Regions from separate parts of the Homo sapiens genome. Here regions 1 and 3 are each linked to region 2. The links come from fine-mapping of genetic effects on gene expression. A gene starts in region 2. Each other region holds a variant in brackets. All regions are shown on one strand. Distances are from middle to middle.

What was found. PIP is the estimated chance that this variant, and not a neighbour inherited with it, causes the effect.
Region 1: its variant is the best candidate, but not a certain one, in a credible set for the expression of INSR in whole blood (INTERVAL, PIP 0.72).
Region 3: its variant is the best candidate, but not a certain one, in a credible set for the expression of INSR in fibroblasts (GTEx, PIP 0.51).

The regions. Positions count from the first base shown.
Region 1 is chr19:7,271,614-7,274,370 of GRCh38, reverse strand. The region is part of intron 1 of INSR (insulin receptor); the gene reads left to right. Among named protein-coding and RNA genes, the nearest start is that of INSR, 21 kb to the left of the region's middle. The variant A/G (reference allele first, on the strand shown) is at 1,228.
Region 2 is chr19:7,293,371-7,296,127 of GRCh38, reverse strand. It overlaps INSR (insulin receptor), which reads left to right and starts at 1,714. Exons shown (of 22, transcript NM_000208.4): 1 at 1,714-2,336. The coding sequence starts at 2,237. RefSeq lists silencers at 1,133-1,312, 1,453-1,842, 1,863-2,142, 2,283-2,422, 2,473-2,532 and an enhancer at 2,514-2,757.
Region 3 is chr19:7,122,979-7,125,735 of GRCh38, reverse strand. It overlaps INSR (insulin receptor), which reads left to right. Exons shown (of 22, transcript NM_000208.4): 17 at 209-453; 18 at 2,747-2,757. Among named protein-coding and RNA genes, the nearest start is that of ZNF557, 55 kb to the right of the region's middle. The variant G/C (reference allele first, on the strand shown) is at 1,652.

The sequences.
Region 1 (2,757 bases), 22 kb after region 2:
CCATGTCCTGTTAGGAGCTGGGCTGCACAGTAGAGGTGAGCAGAGGGCAGGTGAGCATTGCCGCCTGAGCTCCGCCTCGTGTCAGAACAATGGCAGCATTAGATTCTGATAGGAGCTCGAATCCTGTCGTGAACTGTGCATACAAGGGATCTAGGTTGCCTGCTCCTTATGAGAATCTAACTGATGCCTGAGGATCTGAGGTGGAACAGTTTCATTCTAAAACCATCACCACCCATCCCGTGTTCGTGGAAAAATTGTCTTCTACCATTGGTCCCTGGTGCCAAAAAGGTTGGGGACCACTGCTGTGGACTATCTCATTAATCATTTTTTTTTTAGGATTGATTATATGTGGGAATTATTTATTTATTTATTTATTTTGAGATGGAGTCTTGCTTTGTTACTTAGGCTGGAGTGCGACGGGATGATCTCAGTTCACTGCAACTTCCATCTCCTGGGTTCAAGCGATTCTCCTGCCTCAGCCTCCTGAGTAGCTGGGATTACAGGTGTGAGCCATGGTACCTGGCCCATTCGGCATATTTTAGTACGGAGATGGTGGTCAGGCACGGTGGCTCACGCCTGTAATCCCAGCACTTTGGGAGGCCGAGGTGGGCGGATCACCTGAGGTCAGAGTTCGAGACCAGCCTGGCCAACATGATGAAATCCCATCTCTACTAAAAATACAAAATTAGCCAGGTGTGGTGGCACACGCCTGTAATCCCAGCTACTCGGGAGGCTGAGGCAGGAGAATTGCTTGAACCCCAGAAGTGGAGTTTGCAGCAAGCCAAGATCATGCCACTGCACTCCAGCCTGGGCAACAGAGTAAGACTCAAGTCTCAATTAAAGAAAAAAAAAAAAAGAAAAAAGAAAATATTAGCTGTCACTTAGCACCCTCTTCCTCATTGCCTTTTTCTACCTGTACAAAGAGTGGCCATTAACCAGGTACCCATTATGAAGAACTTGAAGCATCCTTCACGCCCACTCAGAGATGTTAAAAGCCAGCAGAAGTCCTCGTGTCTATTTCTGCCTTCATTTCTAACATCCTCTGGGTATTTTCTGTCCCAGTGGTAAACTGCTCTATTGTCTTTCACTAATAGGGACACATACGGCTTTAATGAATTAAGAGTTAGATTCATAGGATATTTAAAAAGAAAAGCAATTCTTGATTGTTCCCTACAATTATAGCTGTTTAATCTTTACTCATAACAACTTTAGTGAGACAGAATTCAC[A/G]TGACATACAATTCACCCATTTTAAGTGTGCAGTTAGGTGGTTTTGAGGACATTTACAGTTGTGCAACTGTGACCACAGTCAGTTTTAGAATATTTGCATCATCTTCAAAGAAACCCTGTACCCTCTAGCTACTACTTTCCATCCCCCATTTCCCTAGCTCTTGGCAGCCACGAATCTATTTTCTGTCTCTATGGATTTGCCTCTTTCGGATTTTTTTGTATGAATGGAGTCAGACAACATGTGGCCTTCTCTGTTTGACTTCTTTTATGGAGAAGGTTCATACCTGTAATCCCAGCACTTTGGGAGGCCAAGACTGGAGGATTGCTTGAGTTCAGGAGTTTGAGAGCATCCTGGGCAACATAGAGAGACCACTATCTCTACAAAACAAATTTAAATTAGCTGGGCATGGTGGTGCATGTCTGTGGTTCCAGCTATACTGGAGGCATAATTTTGTTTTGTTTTTGTTTGTTTGTTTGTTTTTGTTTTTGTTTCGTGGGGTTTTTTTGGTTTTGTTTTTTGTTTTTTGAGATGGAGTTTTGCTCTGTCACCCAGGCTGGAGTGCAAAGGCACGATCTCAGCTCACTGCAACGTCCGCCTCCTAGGTTCAAGCCATTCTCCTGCCTCAGCCTCCGTAGCAGCTGGGATTACAGGCATGCGCCACCCCGCCCAGCTAATTTTTGTATTTTTAGTAGAGACAGGTTTTCACCACGTTGGCCAAGCTGGTCTCCAACTCCCGACCTCAGGTGATCCACCTGCCTCAGCCTCCCAAAGCGCTGGGATTAAAGGAGTGAGCCACTGTGGCTGGCCTTTTATTTACATTTATTTATTTATTTATTTAGAGACGGAGTCTCACTCTTTCATCAGGCTGGAGTGCAGTGGTGCAATCTTGGCTCACTGAAACCTCCAACTCTCTGGTTCAAGTGACTCTTCTGCCTTAGCTTCCCAAGTAGCTGGGACTACAGGCACTCGCCACCATGCCCAGCTAATTTTTTTTGTATGTTTAGTAGAGATGGGGTTTCACCATGTTGGCCAGGATGGTCTCAATCTCCTGACCTCGTGATCCGCCCACCTCGGCCTCCCGCAGTGCTGGGATTACAGGCGTGAGCCACTGCGGCCAGCCTGTATTTACTTTTGAGACAAGATATTGCTCTGTTGCCCAGGCTGGAGTGCAGGGGTACAAACACAGATCACTGCAGTCCTGACCTCCTAGGCTCAAGCGATCCTCCTGCCTCAGTCTCCCGTGTAGCTGGGACCAGAGACACACACCAGCATTCCTAGCTAATGTTTTAAATTTTTATAGAGATGGAGACTCGCTATGTTGCCCAGGTTGGTCTTGAACTCTTGGGTTTAAGCAATCCTTCCGTCTCTACCTCCCAAAGTGCTGGGATTACAGGCGTGAGCCACTGCACTCAGCCTCAGCTATTATGAATAATGCTGCTATAGACATTTGTGTACACGTCTTTGTGTGGACGTATAGTATCATTTCTCTTAGGTAGTTACCTAGGAGTGGAATTGCCAGGTCATATGGC
Region 2 (2,757 bases):
TGCTTGAGGCCAGGAGTTCAAGGCTGCAGTAAGCTAGGATTGCACCACTGCATTCCTGCCTGGGTGACAGCAAGATTCTGTCAAAAGGAAAAAAAAAGAAAGAAAAGAAAAAAAAAAAACAAACAATTGCAGGTAGTGGGGTAAACATGCTATGAAAATGAGAGAGAAGGGGCCAGGCGCAGTGGCTCAGGCCTGTAATCCCAGCACTTTGGGAGGCCAAGGCCGGTGGATCACCTGAGGTCAGGAGTTTGAGACCGGCCAGGCCAACATGGTGAAATCCTGTCTCTACTAAAAATACAGAAAATTAGCTGGGTGTGCTGGCGCATGCCTGTAATCCAAGTTACTTGGGAGGTTGAGGCAGGAGAATCACTTGAACCCAGGCAGGTGATGTTGCAGTGAACTGAGATCTGGCCATTGCACTCCAGCCTGGGCAACAGAGAAAAACTCCATCTAAAAAAAAAAAAAAAAAAAAAAAAAAAAAAAAAAAAAAAAAAACAGAGAGAGAGAGAGAGAGAAGGAAACGGAACTGGGGGGAGGATTTGCAAAAATATGGTTAGGGATGGCACTTCAGAGATGAAGCCATCCTGGAGTGTTACGGGCAAGGGAAATGCTGGGGCAAAGGCCCAGAGGCAGGAATAGGTTTGGCCTGTTGCATGAACAGTGGGTCCAGCTCCTAGCAAACTGTTTATTGAATGAAAGAAGAATGAATGCCTTGGGTCTAGGGTTGTGCTGGGCGCTTTCTTAAGTTTTCTTTCCCGGGTACCTCCCCAGAACTGGCATGCAGGTATTATTAAACCCATTACACAAGTGAAACTGGCCCAGAGACAGAAAAGTCCCTGGTCCAAGACCACACAGGAGTGAGGGGTGGAGGAACCCTCCTCCCATTGAGTTCTGGCTTTCCTATACTGAAAGCCCCTTCCTCTCCTGCAGTAAGGTAGGTGGAACCGCTGTCCCGCCTTGTTGGTGAATGTCGTTGCTAGACTTCAGACACATACAGGCTGGTCTGCTGAAAATCAGAGATGTCCACCTGCGCCCTATTCGAGGTCTCCGGCGTCTTCTTTGGCGTCGTCTTTGCCCTTTCAGAAGCGTCTGCACATTTTTCCAGGTGTCATTTCTCCAACTTGAACACAGGGAGCGCACTGGGCACGCGGGCACGTGGCTGTCCCCAGGGGCCTGGCTTGGGTCTCGCCCCTGGGCCGGGGCGCACTCGCGGGCGGGACATCTGGGGGCGCCCACGCGCTCTGGGACGAGTGTCGCTGGCCAGGCCCGGACTGAGGAAAGGCGAGTGAGACACTACTCGCCTGGGGTGCAAAATTTAAGGGAGTGAAAAAAAAAAAAAAAGAAAGAAACCAAAACCACCTCGAGTCACCAAAATAAACATTTTAATGCAGTATTTTTTAAAAAATCAACAGGAATCCTCCAAAGCCCACTATGAACAAAATAGCAAAATGGTAGAGAAAGGATCTGTGCCGCTGCGTCGGGCCTGTGGGGCGCCTCCGGGGGTCTGAAACTGGAGGAGACTCGGGGCTGTAGGGCGCGCGGATCTGGGGCGCGCCCTCGGTCCCGGCGCGCCCAGGGCCTCCCGCGCGGGGCCCGGCACAGGGAGGCGGGGAGGCGGGCGGGGCGGGGCGGGGCCGGGCGGCACCTCCCTCCCCTGCAAGCTTTCCCTCCCTCTCCTGGGCCTCTCCCGGGCGCAGAGTCCCTTCCTAGGCCAGATCCGCGCCGCCTTTTCCCGCGGCCCGCACGGGGCCCAGCTGACGGGCCGCGTTGTTTACGGGCCCGAGCAGCCCTCTCTCCCGCCGCCCGCCCGCCACCCGCCAGCCCAGGTGCCCGCCCGCCAGTCAGCTAGTCCGTCGGTCCGCGCGTCCCTCTGTCCCGGAGCCCGCAGATCGCGACCCAGAGCGCGCGGGGCCGAGAGCCGAGAGACAGTCCCGGGCGCAGCGCGGAGCTCCGGGCCCCGAGATCCTGGGACGGGGCCCGGGCCGCAGCGGCCGGGGGGTCGGGGCCACCACCGCAAGGGCCTCCGCTCAGTATTTGTAGCTGGCGAAGCCGCGCGCGCCCTTCCCGGGGCTGCCTCTGGGCCCTCCCCGGCAGGGGGGCTGCGGCCCGCGGGTCGCGGGCGTGGAAGAGAAGGACGCGCGGCCCCCAGCGCCTCTTGGGTGGCCGCCTCGGAGCATGACCCCCGCGGGCCAGCGCCGCGCGCTCTGATCCGAGGAGACCCCGCGCTCCCGCAGCCATGGCCACCGGGGGCCGGCGGGGGGCGGCGGCCGCGCCGCTGCTGGTGGCGGTGGCCGCGCTGCTACTGGGCGCCGCGGGCCACCTGTACCCCGGAGAGGGTGAGTCTGGGGGCGCGGGCGTGGGCGGGGAGCGCCGCGATGGGGAGAGGACCCCACCCAAGCCAAAATCGAGCCCCCGCTTGTGGACTGAGAACCCTCCCCAGGGGCGGGGGGCGGTGGCCAGGACGGTAGCTCCTGCATCGCGTAGGGGGAGCGGGAAGCCTCTGACCTTGGCCTTTGCCCGCCCGGGCTCGCGCCTCCGCGCCCTGCGTGCCCGACCTGAGCCCGAGGAACCTTGCCCCGGTGCCCGCCCCGCCGCGGGCTCCTCTCTGGAGCGCGCCTCCGACCCGTGCCCCGGCCCCTCCGAGCCCAAGTCGCTCCGGAGACACGACACGCGTCATCTTTGGGTCGCGGCCGGGAAGTGGGGTCACTGGGTCTGGACAGCCCCGAACAGCCAAGTCCCCCGAGCGCATATGGTGTA
Region 3 (2,757 bases), 170 kb after region 2:
CCTTCCTTGAGTCTCTGCCATGCCCTCTCCATGGGTGCAGATGCCTGTCCTGTTCTCGGCCATATGCCCAGTGCCCGGCATGGGTCCTGGATCACAGAACTCATTTCATGAGTGTTTTCGAGGGGGTTTGGGTGAGGGCTTGGGTGGAAGGTGGCTGCAGACCCCCAAGGGATCCTCCAAGGATGCTGTGTAGATAAGTAAGAAGTAGTGTTTCCATGCTCTGTGTACGTGCCGGACGAGTGGGAGGTGTCTCGAGAGAAGATCACCCTCCTTCGAGAGCTGGGGCAGGGCTCCTTCGGCATGGTGTATGAGGGCAATGCCAGGGACATCATCAAGGGTGAGGCAGAGACCCGCGTGGCGGTGAAGACGGTCAACGAGTCAGCCAGTCTCCGAGAGCGGATTGAGTTCCTCAATGAGGCCTCGGTCATGAAGGGCTTCACCTGCCATCACGTGGTGAGTCCAGTGGGGGTGGGACATGGGCTGGCTTTCCTGACCCTTCCCTTTCTCTGCCTCCTCCTCCTGCACAGAGCGACAGAGGACACAGGGTGTAACCTCCTACCCACCCCTCACTCCACTAAGCTTCCCATCCTAGAGGTGTGAGGAGGGATCATTCCCTTCTCAAATCCCATCCTCTCCCACTTCGCCTGGAACCAGACTCTATCACTGTCTCATCACTTTCTGGAATGTTTCATTGCTTTCCAGAATCTTTCATCACTTTCTGGAATCTTCCATCATTTTCTGGAATCTTCCACCACTTTCCGGAATCTTCCATCATTTTCCACAATCTTCCATTGCTTTTTAGACTCTTCCATTTCTTGCTTTTTCCTGGCACCTTTGTAACCCAGGACCACATAGAGGTCCACCTGATACCACCTGCCCTCGTTCCTACTCTCCTTTGAAGGCAGCACCAACTCTTCCTGCCTTTCTGCTCCTTTGTTCCTCTTTGAGTCCTATGTGCTTTCATCCTTGCCACACATATTTATGGGGCATTTAAAGCCCTGCTCTTGTCCCTGTGATACAGTGGATACCTGCCCCTGTAGAGCTTCCAAAACAGCAGGCGGAGACAGACTCCAAAACCTTTATTTTTATTTTATTTCATATATATATATATATATATATATATATATATATATATATATATATATATTTTTTTTTTTTTTTTTTTTTTTTTTTTTTTTTTTTTTTTTTTTTTTTCCTGAAACGGAGTCTCGCTTTGTTGTGCAGGCTGGAGTGCAGTGGCACAATCTCAGCTCACTGCAAGCTCCACCTCCTGGATTCACACTATTCTCCTGCCTCAGCCTCCCGAGTAGCTGGGACTACAGGCGCCTGCTACCACGCCTGGCTGATTGTTTTTTTTTTTTTTTTTTGAGATGGAGTCTCACTCTGTCACCCAGGCTGGAGTGCAGTGGCATGATCTCAGCTCACTGCAACCTCTGCCTGCTGGATTCAAGCAATTATCCTGCCTCAGCCTCCCGAGTAGCTGGGACTGCAGGTGCCTGCCACCACGCCCAGCTAATGCTTTTTATACTTTTTTTTATTAGAGACGGGGTTTCACCATGCTGGCCAGGCTGGTCTTGAACTCCTGACCTCGTGATCCACCCGCCTTGGCCTCCCAAAGTGCTGGGATTACAGGCGTGAGCCACCACGCCCA[G/C]TGCCTGGCTAATTTTTTTGTATTTTCAGTAGAGACGGGGTTTCACTGTGTTAGCCAGGATGGTCTCGATCTCCTGACCTCATGATCCGCCTGCCTTGGCCTCCCAAAGTGCTGGGATTACAGGCGTGAGCCACCACGCCCAGCCTATTTTTATATATTTTTAAGACAGAGTCTCTCTCTGTCGCCCAGAGTGGAGTGCAGTGGCACAATCTCGGCTCACTGCAACCTCTGCCTCCCAGGTTCAAGCAATTCTCCTGCCGCGGCCTCCTGAGTAGCTGGGATAACAGGAGCCCACCACCACACCCAGCTAATTTTTGTATTTTTAGTAGAGATGGGGTTTCGCCATGTTGGCCAGGCTGGTCTCGAACTCCTGAATTCAGGTGATCCACCGGCCTCAGCCTCCCAAAGTGCTGGGATTACAGGCATAAGCCACCACCCCCAGCTGACTCCAAACCCTTTATACATTAGGAGCAAATGCTATGGAAACATGAAGAAAGGGAGGAAAGGAGGGTTGGACAGGGGTGTATTTGAGCAAAGACTTAGAGGACATGAGGAGCTGGGCCCTGTGGATGTGGCAGGGAACAGAGAGCCAGGCAGAGGGAATGATTAAAATACAAAGGCCTGGCTGGGTGCAGTGGCTATAATCCCAGCACTTTGGGAGGCTGAGGCAGGCGGATCACCAGAGGTCAGGAGTTCAAGACCAGCCTGACCAACATGGAGAAATCCTGTCTCTACTAAAAATACAAAAATTAGCCGGGTGTGGAGGCGGGCACCTGTAACCCCAGCTACTCGGGAGACTGAGGCAGGAGAATTGCTTGAACCCGGGAGGCAAAGGTTGCAGTGAGCCGAGATCACGCCACTGCACTCTAGCCTGGGTAACAGCAAGATTCCGTCTCGAAAATTAAAAAAAAAAAAATACAAAGGCCTATCTGTCTGCTGTCCGGGCAGGTATGTCTGCTCTCCTAGACCAGGGCTGAGCACGCTGCATCCAGGCCACAGGGTGCTGTGTGTGACATAGACACCAGGGAGGGAGGAGAACCCTGGTGAGTCGAATCACGGACCCTCCTCCAAGAACCCTGGTTGCTTGCTCTGCAGGTGCGCCTCCT